Linked DNA regions of Homo sapiens. The protein of the gene in region 3 binds, or shares a complex with, the protein of the main gene of each other region. Each region holds a gene or a part of one and is shown on either strand. Other genes may lie near its edges.

Region 1 (4,319 bases), on a different chromosome or scaffold from region 3:
GACTCACTGCCAACCAGGCAGGACCTTTGGATGTGGGTATATGTCTGAATGTATCCTTAGGCTCTGAATATCCCAGTGTTTTTTTGAAGATGGAAAAGAATACGTTCATGTGAGGTGTTGAATTATTTCAATTCAAAATAATGCCAAGGGTGTATAAGCATTCATAATGTTTTGCTGTTTGGGTAGGTGCTCCTCAGCAAGTGATGACTCAAATCATCAGGGGGCAGCCTGTCTCCACTGCAGTCTCCGCCCCTAACACGGTTTCCTCAACACCTGGGCAGAAAAGCTTAACTTCAGCAACGTCCACTTCAAATATACAGTCTTCAGCCTCACAACCCCCTCGCCCCCAACAAGGACAAGTGAAGCTCACCATGGCTCAACTTACTCAGTTAACACAGGGCCACGTAAGTAACATAAGCTTTATTTTAACTTTAGAGGTGATCTTATTTATTCTTGCGGTAAGTTTAAAAACATGAACTTATTTTGATACGTTTTTAAATGTGCTGATTTGAAGAAATGGTTGCTTCCTGGAGTCAAGCAGAAATACCTCTTAGACAGGATATAATAAACCCCAACTACTAGAGTAATCTTTAGACAGTGAGCTAAAACAGTGAGACAGATAACCCTTTTAAACACCAAAATTTTATTAGTTGGCTAATCTCCATGAGACAAATAAAATTTGAGTACATTAAGCTGCTTCCTTGCAAGACTCGATATTGTTAGCAAGTCTTCTAATATTGATTAATAAATTGAATGCAGCTCCCATCAAAATCCCAAGAGGTTTTGTTTTTAGTGAAACTTCACAAGCTGATACTGAAAGTTTATATGGAGGTACAAAGTATTAAGAATATCTGTACCTTTGAAGAACAGGATTATTTGCCCTATATATGATAACTTGATATCAAAACTTAGTATAGGCTGGGCATGGTGGCTTGCGCCTGTAATCCCAGCACTTTGGGAGGCCAGGGCGGGTGGATTGCTTGAGGTCAGGAGTCTGAGACCAGCCTGACCAACATGGTGAAATTCCATCTCTGCTAAAAGTACAAACAAATTAGCTGGGCGTGGTGGCATGCGCTTGTAATCACAGCTACTCAGGAGGCTGAGGAAGGAGAATTGCTTGAACCTGGGAGGCGGAGGTTGTAGTGAGCTGAGATTGCACCACTGCATTCCAGCCTGGGTGACAAAGCAAGACTTCATCTAAAAAAAACCAAAAAACTTAGTATATAATACTTCACTAATTAATATAGTGAGGTACAGACATAAGGAGAGGCAGATAGACCAACAGAACAGTAGAGAGTGCAGAACATGAACCCCATGTATGTGGACACTTGTTATATGACAAAGGTGACATTGCAGATCATTGAGGAAGAGATGACTTTTCAGTAAATGGTGCCAGGACAATTGAATATACATGGGAAACTGTGAAATTGGACCATTATTACCTCACTCTACATAAACTCAATTCCAGGAGGATGAAAGTCCTAACTGTGAAAGGTAAAACTATAATACCTTTAGAAGATAGAAGAATATCTTCATAGCTTTCCTAAACAGATAGAAAATGCTAACCATAAATGAAAAGATTTATAAATTCAACTACTTTAAAAATAAGAGTAAGAACCTCTGTTCATCAAACTCACTACAGAGAGAGTGAAGAAAATGAGAAAAGAACCAACCAAGGACTATTACATATCCAGAATATATAAAGAATTACTACAAATCAAGAAAGAAAAAAATCCAGATAGATCAATAGGAAAAAAGACAAACAGGCAAGGTGCGGTGGCTCACACCTGTAATCCCAGCACTTTGGGGGGCCAAGGTTTTGGGAGGCCAAGCCAGGTGGATCACTTGAGGTCAGGAGTTTCAGACCAGCCTGGCCAACATGGGGAAACCCCGTTTCTACTAAAAATACAAAAATTAGTCAGGCGTGGTGGTGTACGCCTGTAATCCCAGCTGCTTGGGAGGCTGAGGCAGGAGAATTGCTTGAACCCAAGAAGCAGAGGTTGCAGCGAGCCAAGATATACCACTGCACTCCAACCTAGGCAACAGACTCCGTCTCAAAAAAAAGAAAAACAAAAAAAAAAGGACAAACCAACATTATGAGGAAAGAAGAAATCTAAATGTCCCAAATTCCAAAAAACTGCTGAACTTTATTAATAATGAGAGAAGTACATATTAAAACCATATGCTTAAGAGATTGGTACAAATTTAAATGTCCAACAAAACCAAGAGTTAGCAAAGACATAGAGCAGAAAGAATTCTCATGCACAGCTGGTGGGCCTATCAGTCGGTTCAGCCATTTTGGAAACTTCCTGGACATGGTCTGGTAAAGTCAAAGCTGTGTATGCCCAAGGTCCCAGTATACCTTCTAGGTATATCCCTAGAGAAGTTGTTGGCCATGTGAGCACCAGAATACATGGCATAAATATTGGTAGCAGCATTGTTCATAAGAATCAAAAACTAAGAACAACTCAGGTGTCTATCAAAATCAGTTAGCTAAGTAAATTGTAGTATATTCCTACAGCAATAAAAATGAATAGACTTCAGCCACACAGAACTATGCAGATGATTCTCACAAATATATAATGGTAAGCTAAAGAAGCAAGTAGCTGCCAAAAAAAATACATGTTATAATTTCATTTGTATAAGATTCAGAAATAGGCAAAACTAAGCTATTTTGTGTAGGGATACAGGGCTGCTGCATTGCCTGCCTGGAGGGGGCACTATTCCCATTGTATTCTTTGTGAATATTGCTCCTGAGTTTGTGAACCTCAGTGGCCTTATATATACCTAAGATACATACCGAAGTAGTAATGAAATACAGTGTTATCATCAAAGTGAGGATAGTGCTTACCTCTAGGGGAGAGGGAGGGAATTGAAATCCGGGTGAGTCATATGGGGACTTCTAGGACACTGGCAATGGTGACCACAGTGGCGGTTTTATAGATGTTTACTTTATAATTTTTAAATTATACTTGGTGTTTTGTGCATTTTGTGCATAAAAAATGTATTTTAGAAAAGCAAGAGTAAATAAGTTTTGAGGGATTCACATGTATATGGAGCTTACTTAGTACATGGACTTTGCGCCATCAGTTTTGGTCATTGGGAGTTTAGGGGATGGTTTTTACTTTTGCTTTCCAGTTCTCCAGCATGTTCCTGGTATTCAGGGTTTCTAGTTGAATTACAGTTCTGGACAGAAGAGAGAGCGCCTAGAGAATTTTAAATTTCTGGACCCCTTTTTGGTAACTGCTCAGACCTTAGTGATCCTCCTTACTTGGTGTTTGCATTACATATCTAAAACCCTAAGCTTTTTACAGTTTAGCACACACACACCCCATAGGTAATTTGGCACGTATTGAAAGACAAAATTCAGGAGATCTAGGTTCCTTCTTTTATCTCACCTTTAAGTTGGCCAGGGTACTTGACCTTTCTAACCTGAGTTTCTTAGTTGGGAATCAGAAGAATATTTTCTCTGCCTACCCCATAAAGTCACAAGTCCATTGTGAGAATCAAATGAGGCAGTATCTATGAAGATGCTTTTGAAATTGTAAAATATGAATATAAGATTATTTAAAATCAGAATTTTGTGGGGACTTTAGTTATTCAATACCTTTATTTTATAGATTGGGAAACTTGGATCTGGAGGAACAGTGTTGCTTGTGGACAGATAACTGGCTGACCATTGGGGGAGCTTGAACTGGAACTCTGGATTGTTGATGTTTTTCCTACTAAGCAACATAAATATTCTTACTTTAGCTTATCTAAATTCCTGCTGGTGACATTCAAATATGTATTTTCATTATATTAAAAGATAATTACACATAAAAATGATTTAATAAAAATGATATACATACAGATTGATGCTTTGAACACTGTTTACATGTTGTGTTTTTTCCACAGGGTGGCAATCAAGGTTTGACAGTAGTAATTCAAGGACAAGGTCAAACTACTGGACAGTTGCAGTTGATACCTCAAGGGGTGACTGTACTCCCAGGCCCAGGCCAGCAGCTAATGCAAGCTGCAATGCCAAATGGTACTGTTCAGCGATTCCTCTTTACCCCATTGGCAACAACAGCCACCACAGCCAGCACCACCACCACCACTGTTTCCACGACAGCAGCAGGTAGAGCTGTGGGTTTATCGGAAATGTCGGATGTTACTACTACACGTGGCTGGGCTAACAGAGGCCAACAGGAGAACCAGTATTTACCTTTGGAAGGATATGCCTCAAGCCAGTGACCTCAACAGTTGACATAGTCAGCCTCACAACGTCTCGAAGCTTTTGTACCCTATTCTTACAGACTCCCTGTTACCACCACCCT
Region 2 (3,429 bases), on a different chromosome or scaffold from region 3:
CTGTCTTTCTGACTGTGCCTTTCCCCTTCAGATTTGAGTATCTGTTTAATTTTGACAACACATTTGAAATCCACGATGACATAGAAGTGCTGAAGCGGATGGGCATGGCTTGCGGGCTGGAGTCGGGGAGCTGCTCTGCCGAAGACCTTAAAATGGCCAGAAGTCTGGTCCCCAAGGCTCTGGAGCCATACGTGACAGGTCAGCAATGCCCAGACAACCTGGCGTGGCTGTGTGAGGAATGGCCCCCAGCCTCCGACGGTGCCCTCCCCTCCCGGCTCGGGATGTGTCTTGCTGAGATCAGGCCCACGTGTGTAGGGCCAGGAGCAAAGACAAAGGGGCTGTGAGGGGGATGAGGGCAGGGGTGTGGCTGGGGTGGGGTCCAGCCAGTGCCGTGACCCACTGGATATGGGGGCCTTGAGTCCACAGGTGGCTCGTGTGGATTTCCTATGTGGTTTGTGTGAGGAGGTGCTAAGTCAGGATTTTACCCTCCAAGTAGGCCCAGAAGTAGAAGTTGAGATTCTTTGAGAAGTGCAGTTGGATTGCTGATCCCACCCACTGATGGTAGCTGATTGGTCACTAGGGCAAAGTCACCAAGAAAAAGCATTTCAGAGTCATTGGCGTCCTGCTCCGGAGGGCCGGGAGCACAGGAGCTTTTGTTGAAGGAGCTTTTTTTCTGTTCTGGTGAATTCTTTCCTTGGGGGCCGTAGGGTCCCAGCCACTGACAGCAGGATGGCTTTAAGGTGAGAAATTGTGAAGGTGTCATATCTGCTGATCCTTCTCTTGTTAGCCTAAACTTGGGGTGTAGATTTATTCCCTGAGAGGGTCAGAGATTCCTCCCTGAGCTCTTAGACTGCCCCAGATCTTGTGAAAATCTGGCTGGTCCATGTTGTCAGGTGACAGTGGGCTCTGGCCGCCCACGTGGGCTGGGCCCTGACCCCGGCCTCTGTCCCGTGCTTCATGGAGCTGCCAGGATGGGCTGTGGGAAGAGGGTTTCAGCTTGACACTTTGATTCGGTTCCGTTTCACGATGGGTATGATACTGAGGCAGCAGCACACGTGTGCCGTTTGTAAGTCAGTGTGTGCAGGTATTTATTGCAAGGCTGTTCTTGCCTTTTTAGAGAAGACAGGCTTATGTGACTGCACAGCGGGATGTCCTGCTCCGTGGCGCAGTGTGGAAAATACTGGACAAGCGAAGGATATCCGGAAGCTTCTACAGCCGTCTGTCCTGTGGAACTGCGCGTCATTTTGTTGGTTGCCTGTGCGTCTTGTGTTGTTTCTGTTTCATGACCATTCGCTTATTTTCTTTCCCTTTTCAGAAATGGCTCAGGGAACTGTTGGAGGCGTGTTCATCACGACGGCAGGTTCCACGTCTAACGGCACAAGGTTCTCTGCCAGGTGACAGTCGTTGAGGGTGTGGGAGAGGCGTCATCTGGGCCTCCCCCGGGGTCCAGGGGCCAAGGCAGGGCAGCCGTCTCAGGTGTGGCCATCAGGTCTGTGGCTGCTCTGACGTGGCTTGTCTGTCCAGGCAGTGGGGCCCCGCTGGCTTTCCCTGTGTGGAGAGCTGCTTTTCTTAGTTGGTTTCTGCTCACTAAAAACTGAAAGTAATACATGGTGGTTTTTTTTTCATAGTATCACCTAATAAGTAAAGTAGGAATGAAAACCACCCAAATCCTCCTGTCCCCGGCAGCCCAAGTAACAGCAAGTATTTCCAGGTTTTTTTTCCCATTTTTCAGAACGCGTCTGCGGTCACAGCGCACGTATTTTTCAGAACGCGTCTGCGGTCTGGGCGCAAGTAGTTTTCAGAACGTGTCTGCGATCACAGCACACATTTTTCAGAACGCATCTGCGGTCATGGTGCATGTGTTTTTCAGAATGCATCTATGGTCATAGCGCATGTATTTTTCAGAACGTCTGCCATCACGGCGCACGTGTTTTTCAGAACGCGTCTGCGGTCTCGGCGCACGTGCTGCGATCACAGTGCATGTATTTTTGCGAACGCGTCTGTGATTATGGTACACGTATTTTTCAGAACGCGTCTGCAATCACAGCGCACGTATTTTTCAGAACGCGTCTGTGGTCACAGCACACATATTTTGTTCCGTGCATTTTTCAGCTTACATTTTATTGTATGAATATATATTGTTTCTATGCTATTAAAGGGCCTTTATTTAAATAAATTTGTATTTAATCTTTGACCTGCAATCCCACAGAGTAGAATGGTGTCCCTAGGTATTGATCTTAGTGCTTCAAAGATAAATATAACTTTTATGGTAAATATTAACAAAACAATGATTTTATTAACTTTTATATTGCATTGTGATACAATATATAGTATTACTTTATATTAATCTTAAGTGTTAATAAAATCTTTAATTAGAAATACAAGAACTCAGTAACCTATGGGTCCGGGTAACAGGGCTCGACATAGTGAGTTTCAGTGTGCTTGAGCCTGCGTTGGGATGTGCTGTGGCCATGAGATGTAACAGGTGTGTCGGGCACGTGTAGCTTCCTGGCCAGCTCTGGAAGTGCAAAGCCAGCCTTGGCCTCCTCACCTGTAAGGTGAGACTGGTGATTGATGAGTTACTGATCTGTGGCAAGGATCAGTGAGGTGGTGATGGAAGAAAGGACTTTGGTGACAAGCTTTTGACAGAGGCCGGTTCTCCTTCTGTTGTAGCTATGTGTGAACGTGTGGCGGTCAGTCTGTAAACATGTTTAATGCTGCTTCTTCCATGAGGTGGGATGTGGGTATTTTTAGGACTTTTATCATCACATAATCCTTTTTATGGATGTGATTCTTCAGACTTGTCAGTTTTTCATAACAATGGAAACAAAGCTATTACCATTTCTTACGAAATACCGATTTTCATAGTGGCATGATGAGACATTTTATACAAGTACCTCATGAAAGGACATCTAGGTAGTTCCCAGTTAGAATAAAAACTGCAGTGAGCAGCTTTACAGCTGAATTTCTCGCCATTTCTGACTTGTTTCCAAGATACAGAATTACTTCATCAAAAGGCACATTAACACATTTTTATTGTAGTGTTAATAAATACCATTAAAATGTATTAAAATATGTACATATGGTTTTATGTTAATTGAAAACATCTTTAAACATTAGGAACGTAGTGAGCTCTGGTTGGTGGTAGGTTTTTGTGGTGCTGCCAGCCCTCTGGGTTCTCAGTCCCCGCTGCCAGATTCGACCCACGCTCTGGACTCCATCCTGTCCTGCCCCGGGCTCTCTTTTTTCCTGTTGCTGGTTATGAGTGAAAGTCCCGGAGGGAGGGATCTAATGGTTTTACAGTTTGTTCCCTCTGGGGCACTGCTCCTGATGGAATGATGAGTGAGGGAGAGGCAGCGTGTGGCTCTGCTCAGCCTCCTGTTTCTGTCGTTATGGGTTCCAGGAGACAGGGCCAGAAGAGAACCAGAC
Region 3 (3,071 bases):
TCACCCTCCCAGGATTCTATTAAAGCAAGCTGTGGTTAACAGACAAGATGCCTTTTTCGTCATCATTTTCAAAAGCATTGTCACTTTTTTTCCAAGACACAACTTCTTTGAACCTGTTTCATAACCTATCATATAAATACCAGCCTCAATACTGCTATCAAGATTAAACAATGAACAAAAAAGTGTTTTATAAGTAAGAGTGGACAATGTGAGTTTTTATTGTTTGGCTCATTAGAAATGTTCTTGGCCATCTCATGCAGGAACAGCTGGAGGAAATGGAAGAACGCCAGAGGCAGTTAAGAAATGGGGTGCAACTCCAGCAACAGAAGAACAAAGAGATGGAACAGCTAAGGCTCAGTCTTGCTGAAGAGCTCTCTACTTATAAGTCAGTTTCTGCTGCTATACAAATCTCATCTAATACTGGCTGAGGGGATGGTGGGAGGGCTTAGGGAAAATTTTACCTTAGAATCAAAAACAAAAAGAGGATTTGGGAAATGATTTTCAAATTGTGCTTATCCAAAAACACATGGAAAATGGCTCTCTCTTTTTAAAGGGCTATGCTACTACCCAAGAGCCTGGAACAGGCTGATGCTCCCACTTCTCAGGCAGGTGGAATGGAGACACAGTCTCAAGGTGATCTTTGTGAAGAGAAGAGTGGTGTTTGCATTGTTACTGCTTTCCTAACAATACTAATTAATGCCTTAAAAACAGGCCGGACGGGGTGGCTCACGCCTGTAATCCTAGCACTTTGGGAGGCTGAGGAGGGTGGATCACCTGGAGTCAGGAGTTCAAGACCAGCCTGGCCAACATGGCAAAACTCCATCTCCACTAAAAATACAAAAATTAGCCGGGCATAGTGGCAGGCACTTATAATCCCAGCTACTCAGGAGGCCAAGGCAGGAGAATCGCTTGAACCAGGAGGCAGAGGTTGCAGTGAGTCAAGATCACAATACAGCACTCCAGCTTGTACAACAGAGTGAGACTGCCTCAAAACAAAACAAAAACCCAAAAAACAAAAACAACAAAAAACCCTTGTGTGCCTAATGACAAGGGGATAACCCAAACCTCCAAAACGCCTGAGTCAGGCATTCAGAGTTCATTTGGAATGTTTGTTTCTAGTAGGACTCAAAATATGCCCTGATTATCACCATGAATTCTGTGGCATCTAGGCTTTGGGCATCTTGTTTCCTCATCCTACCCTACCCACCTGCTATTCTCAGTTTTCCTTATAATAGCAGAGAAAGCAGTTGTGCTATCAAAAATAATAAACATATCTATCCATTAAGTTCCTTATATAATATTCAAAGGCTGTGGTTTTGGGTGGAAGCAGAGATGTTCATGTTACACAGACTTACTCTTTTTTTTTTTTTTTTTTTTTGAGACGGAGTCTTGCTCTGTTGCCAGGCTGGAGTGCAGTGGCGTGACCTCTGCCTCCCGGGTTCAAGCGATTCCCCTGCCTCAGCCTCCCAAGTAGCTGGGATTATAGGCACGCACCACCACGCCTGGCTAATTTTTTTGTATTTTAGTAGAGACGGGGTTTCACCATGTTGGCTAAGATGGTCTCATCTCCTGACCTTGTGATCCACTTGCCTCGGCCTCCCAGAGTGCTGGGATTTCAGGTGTGAGCCACCATGCTTGGCCTAAACAGACTTAACTTTTAGACACTGACAAAACTGAAGGCATCTTTCTGACCAATCACCTACTCAGGATCCCTCCCCCAATGTTTTACCAGTATATTCTGATAAAAGTTCTAGAGTCCGTGAAAGAAACTAAGGATAAAAGAAAGTCCGTGTCAAGTTGTACATTATACAGATGCCTATAAATTTTATTCATTTCCTAAGCTTACATCAAATTCACAACTTTCTTTTTTTTTTGAGACAGTCTCGCTCTGCCACCCAGGCTGGAGTGCAGTGGCACGGTCTCAGTTCACTGCAACCTCCACCTCCTGGGTTCAAGTGATTTTCCTGCCTCAGCCTCCTGAGTAGCTGGGACTACAGGAGCATGCCACCACGGCCAGCTAGTTTTTGTATTTTTAGTAGAAACGGGGTTTCACCATCTTGGCCAGGCTGGTCTTGAACTCCTGACCTTGTGATCCACGTGCCTCAGCCTCTCAAAGTGCTGGGATTACAGGCGTGAACCACCGCGCCTGGCCCACAAGTAACTATTGTTGCTTTTTCTAATTTTCTAGGATTTTATTTTTTTAAATTTCTTTTTAGTAGAGATGGGGGGTCGGGTCTTGCTATTTTGCCCAGGCTGGAGTAGTGGCACGATCTTGGCTCACTGCAACTCTGCCTCCTGGGTTCAAACAATACTCCTGCCTCAGCCTGCTAAGTAGCTGGGATTACAGGCATAAGCCATCACACCCAGCCTTGAGGATTTTCTTATACTGTGTTTGAATCCACATGACTGATAATATGCTTAATGTTTGAGAAATTATAACCTTGCAATTGAGGTTAATGATCTACTAACTACCTTTGTGTTGATCAGATTGTGTACAATCTGGAAAAGACAACGACTAATCCAAAGAAATGAAACTACAGAATTTCAGGCATTGTAATTATACCTGTAAGAAGTTAACCTAGCAGAGAAAACGTTTAACTATCCCTCCCATCACCATCACCATTCATTCTATTTGACAAACAGGAGGCATCCAAATATTTGCTAGGGGAAAGTCATCCCTGATCATCCATAAATCACACTGTAACAATCTCTTCTCAACAAAGCCTGCAGTAACTAAACCTCAGAAGTTCACTGTTATAAACTTTTTCTTTCAACTTTACAGGGGCTGTTTAGAAATATATGGCCAAATCTGTAACCCGGAAACAGCAAAAAACTTCTTAGCAAAGGATCACTAAGTACCCTTTGGATGTACTCTTCCAACCAGACAAGAGTGCCAGAAACTTGGCAAGCAATTCATCCTGTGGAAGTTGCAAATACTGGCTGACCTGCTTAAAAAGATTCTAGAGTTGGCCGGAGGCAGAACATGTCAACTCTTTGCTGGATTCTATTTCATCTGCTGTTGATACTGATCTCAATGCACCAAGGAAAGGAAAGATGAGCCTCCTGTCTTC
Region 4 (4,319 bases), on a different chromosome or scaffold from region 3:
AAAAGTATTAAACCAGTAAAATTACAATAAGAATTGATCAGTGTTGTCATAGGATAAATGTGGTATATGTATAGAAAAGAAGATGGCAAGGAGATATCCAAAATATTTTCTTTTCTTTTTTTCTTTTATTTTTTGAGATGGAGTTTCGCTCTTGTTGCCCAGGCTGGAGTGCAGTGGTGCAATCTCAGCTCACTGCAACCTCCGCCTCCCGGGTTCAAGTGATTCTCCTGCCTCAGCCTCCCGAGTAGCTAGGATTACAGGCATGCACCACAACGCCCAGCTAATTTTGTATTTTTAATAGAGATGGGGTTTCTCCATGTTGGACAGAACTCCCAACTTCAGGTGATCCGCCCTCCTTGGCCTCCCAAAATGCTGGGATTATAGGCGTGAGCCACCGTGCTCAGCCCAAACTATTTTCTGTAGACTAAAACAGTAACGTCTGTGTCTGCCTCATTAAAAACATGACTGCATGTGACCTTTTTAAAATAAGAGCTAGTTGTGGGGTGGGGGGAGGGGGGAGGGATAGCATTAGGAGATATACCTAATGCTAAATGACGAGTTAATCGGTGCAGCACACCAGCATGGCACATGTATACATATGTAACTAACCTGCACATTGTGCACATGTACCCTAAAACTTAAAGTATAATAATAATAAAAAAAATAAAATAAGAGCTAGTTTGAATTAGAAAGCAACAGACACCAGGAAAAATCTTGTCAGGAAAAAGAATAGATATTTGATGAGTAGCAGCATTGAGTTCACCAGCAGCAGGCACCTGAAAAGACATTGCGGCGGGGGTTTTGGCCAAAACATGTCTGTCTGCCCTCTAAGCAGGGTGGCCTTCTTACCTCATGTATTTCTGATTTGATTTTCTCTTTTCCCACTTCTGGCTTTGGCTCTCAACACCACAGTCCAGGTCTTTTGTGCTGAGGGCAGAAGGCATTGAGGGTGGTACACTGGGATGTATCCCATGGGCTGTGCTCTGGAGGGCTTATCTAAGAAAAAGAGTAAGAAAGTGCCTTTGAGTGTTTTCATTTGAATACCTTCTCTCCGTAAGCTGCCTTCCCGTATTTTTTTTTTCCTGCTCTTATGTTCTAGAAATTTTTTTTTCTTCCAAGAAGATGAAGAAACCTGGGTTCTTGTCACAGCAAGAGAATTGTCTAGCTGTCATGAAGAATAAGCTTAGCTCTTGCTTTTCTGTGCTTTCCTCAGACTGTAACAACAGCAGCCACAGAACTTGCAGGACCGACATTTTTTGTTCTCATTTTTTCCTTTAGATATCTCCACAGGACCTTCTTGGTTAAATCAGGGACTACTTCTGAACTCTACCCAATCAGTTTCAAATTTAGACCTGACCACTGGTGCCACCTTACCCCAGTCAAGGTACGTATTTTTTTCAGGGTTAGAAAGGCAAACCCCAGAGCCCTGACTGTCTGTGTAGGGGTGAGCCGGGGTCATGTTACTGCCAGCACAGGTCCTGCTGAGCAGGTTTGTGGCAGATCTCACCAATGGCACCTCCTTCCTGTTTTTATTCCTATGTTTTACAAAACTGTTTATACCACATTAATGAGCCTGTGTGTTTTTAATTGTTTGCTAGTGTAAACCAAGGGTTATGCTTGGATGCAGAAGTGGCCTTAGCAACTGGGCAGTTCCTGGCCCCAAACAGTCACCAGTCCAGCAGTGCGGCCTCTCACTGCTCCGAGTCCCGAGGCGAGACCCCCTGTTCGTTCAATGATGAAGATGAGGAAGATGATGAGGAGGATTCCTCCTCCCCAGAATAAAGACAAGAGAAAGCCTACGTTTCAATATGTGATGCTCATGTGTGTTTGTAGTGTGAGCTCTTGTTTTTGAAATGATTGCTTCAGTCTTTGCCTTTGTTTGCACTGTGTGTTCAGTGAAAACTAGAGAAACACAATAAGCAAATCACATGAAGGCTGAGATGATTGAGATGAAAGTTAACATAGTGTGAATGAAAGTCTGGCCAACAGAGCAGTAGATGATATAACAAAGAAAGCATGCTTTCTGAGGAGATAGTGGGGATAATCCCTGAAGAGTTGGCAGTGTGAGTGCAACTCATTTATCTTCTGTGAGGTGGGATTTTTGTGTTCCTCACACCCATGTAATTATTCTTAGAATTGAGATTGCTACACGGAGCAGTCCTTGACGATCGTGTTTCTGACGTTTCTCTTCCTTGCCTGGACTGCCTTTGACAAGGCAGAAATGAACATGAAAAGTCCCCAGGAGAGGGGAGCTGTGTAGTGAGGGATACTGAGGGCAGTCCTGTGGCTGAGGGGCACAGATTGAACTGCTGAACTAGTTGGAGGTCTAGATGAGGTGCTTTACGCATCAGCTGCCTTAGACAGCTTCTAGAAAGGAGCGAGCGCTACTTCTTAAGTACTTAAGTGACATTTAGATAATTTATAGTAAAACTGAAATTATTATTAGCCAATGCATTGGTGCATAGAATTTACTAGGGCTACTTCTGGAAGCCAAAATAGAATAGCATTTCCATGTGCATTAAATACTTTGCCAGCACTGCCTTTGCCAGCATCCTAAATCTGGAGTTTTACAAAGAAGGAAACTGTATCTTTAGGTTAATCAAAGCTATGCATTTCATATAGCTTTTTCATTTAAAACAAGACAAAGAAACAAATTCCTATGACCAAATTGCTTGCCTACAGTTCCCTGCAGTAATTGTATGATCTCACCCAGTGTGCAATTTGTGAAAATGAACCAAATGTCATTACTTTTGTCTTAAAGAAAAGTCTATTTCAAGAATATGAACAGCAGTGTTTCCTTGTACATGTCACCTTTTTTCACATTTTCATTAATCAGAATGACCTTATTGAGCCTACTCCTGGGGTCAATTGCATTTCAAACTAATCCAATATTTAGTGTTTCACAGAAACACTAGAAAACGTTGAACACTCCTACTGCCTGGATATATGGTAGTGCAGTTATGTTGTTTATGGCTCAAGATGTCATTAGAAATACTGCAGTGGTGTATTCACAGCTGCTCCTTCTCTGAATGAAAGAGTGTAGGGACACCTGCCACCATGGCCAGACCCTGACTGAATTTCACATTAAGGCTTTGGAAAGGAGCAAATAATAATGGGAGAATTAACTCCAAAACTTTGACCTGAATCATGTGGATTTGTCCCAAGATTATGCTAGATGCACCAAGCATGGCCCAAATTGGTTCTTTTTTAAATCCCATGGGGGAAGTGCAGGCTCCTTCCTGTGGTGCCTCTTTATAGCCTCACCACCATGCTAACACTGAGCATGGTGAGGAGGAGGAAGCTTTGGCTAGCTAAACATGTTTAATAAGGCCATAAAAACTGAGAAAGAAAAACATTCAACTTTAGCTGAAGCTCCTTTGATACAAAAGTTTCATTCTGTCAGAAATAAGCCATAGTACAGACTCAGAGATAGAGGCAGTTTCTAGAGAACTCGGTCTTATCGTGGGTTCTGGAGCACACCTCTCAGACCAGTCAGGAACACTGGGGAGGTGACAGCAGGTCCCCAGGGGCCTGCAGGGAATCTTTCAGCTGCACGGATTGGGATTTCCCTCCAAACCAAACTGTCCTTTAAGGGGCAGCCTCCTCTTTTACTAACTCCACCCTTTCTCATCTCTGGGACCCAGCAGGGACCTGGAGAGGCCAACAGCCACTGCTACCTTTGTAGTCTTCAAAATATTGAACTGCAGGTCCCAAGATGCATTTCAGGATTTAAGACAGGTGCACTAATGATAACCATTCCTTCACCAAGTAGCAACATTCTTGCCAGAGTTCTTGGGAAACCTGTTTTTTTCTCTACTCTCCATCTCTGCTGCTCTCATGCTTTAAATTGATAAAATATGGGCTCAAAAAAAGAAAGCCGCCAAAGACTCTTATCCTTATTGGTGCCCCATCATTGGCCACCCCAGCCATAGGTGTGTGCTGTTGGTGGGAAATGGTCTCCTTCCTCAGCGTTGTGTTTGGGTTACTGGTGAGGCCAGCTCACAGAGTGACATCATGGTCACCAGTACATGTCGCTGGAGTAAAATCTTGCCTTTAGAAACTAGGTTGAGCTGTTCAGAAAGGTCAATTCTCTTCTGTATTCCCCCTCAACATTTATCTGGGTCTAAAGCTCAGCACTGAGTCACAATTTCACACAAGATCAAAGTGAGGCAGTGTTAGGAAACCATGGGCTGGGTGCAGTGCCTCTCGCCTGTAATCGTAGCACTTTGGGAGGCCGAGGCGGGCACATTGCTTGAGCTCAGGAGTTCAAGACCAGCCTGGGCAACATGACAAAACCCTGTCTCTACAAAAATACAAAA

What was found. The genes of interacting proteins can lie anywhere in the genome.
Region 1: RBBP4 (region 3) and BPTF share a complex: the UniProt entries of both Homo sapiens proteins name them as parts of the BPFT-SMARCA1 complex.
Region 2: RBBP4 (region 3) and TFDP1 share a complex: the UniProt entries of both Homo sapiens proteins name them as parts of the DREAM complex.
Region 4: RBBP4 (region 3) and TFDP2 share a complex: the UniProt entries of both Homo sapiens proteins name them as parts of the DREAM complex.

The regions. Positions count from the first base shown.
Region 1 is NC_000017.11:67,940,253-67,944,571, forward strand, and holds part of BPTF (nucleosome-remodeling factor subunit BPTF), read left to right. Parts: intron 1-186; coding exon 187-404; intron 405-3,897; coding exon 3,898-4,120; coding exon of another isoform or gene 4,121-4,232; intron 4,233-4,319. UniProt on the Homo sapiens protein: Regulatory subunit of the ATP-dependent NURF-1 and NURF-5 ISWI chromatin remodeling complexes, which form ordered nucleosome arrays on chromatin and facilitate access to DNA during DNA-templated processes such as DNA replication, transcription, and repair.
Region 2 is NC_000013.11:113,636,503-113,639,931, forward strand, and holds part of TFDP1 (transcription factor Dp-1), read left to right. Parts: intron 1-31; coding exon 32-198; intron 199-1,117; coding exon of another isoform or gene 1,118-1,315; coding exon 1,316-1,394; intron 1,395-3,429. UniProt on the Homo sapiens protein: Can stimulate E2F-dependent transcription.
Region 3 is NC_000001.11:32,681,572-32,684,642, reverse strand, and holds part of RBBP4 (histone-binding protein RBBP4), read right to left. Parts: 3' UTR 2,856-3,071; coding exon of another isoform or gene 2,783-2,855; 3' UTR 858-2,782; coding exon of another isoform or gene 554-857; 3' UTR 386-553; coding exon of another isoform or gene 261-385; 3' UTR 1-260. Other genes in the region: SYNC (syncoilin), read left to right, coding at 261-385, 554-857. UniProt on the Homo sapiens protein: Core histone-binding subunit that may target chromatin assembly factors, chromatin remodeling factors and histone deacetylases to their histone substrates in a manner that is regulated by nucleosomal DNA.
Region 4 is NC_000003.12:141,949,976-141,954,294, reverse strand, and holds part of TFDP2 (transcription factor Dp-2), read left to right. Parts: intron 1-1,278; coding exon 1,279-1,384; intron 1,385-1,598; coding exon 1,599-1,782; 3' UTR 1,783-4,319. UniProt on the Homo sapiens protein: Can stimulate E2F-dependent transcription.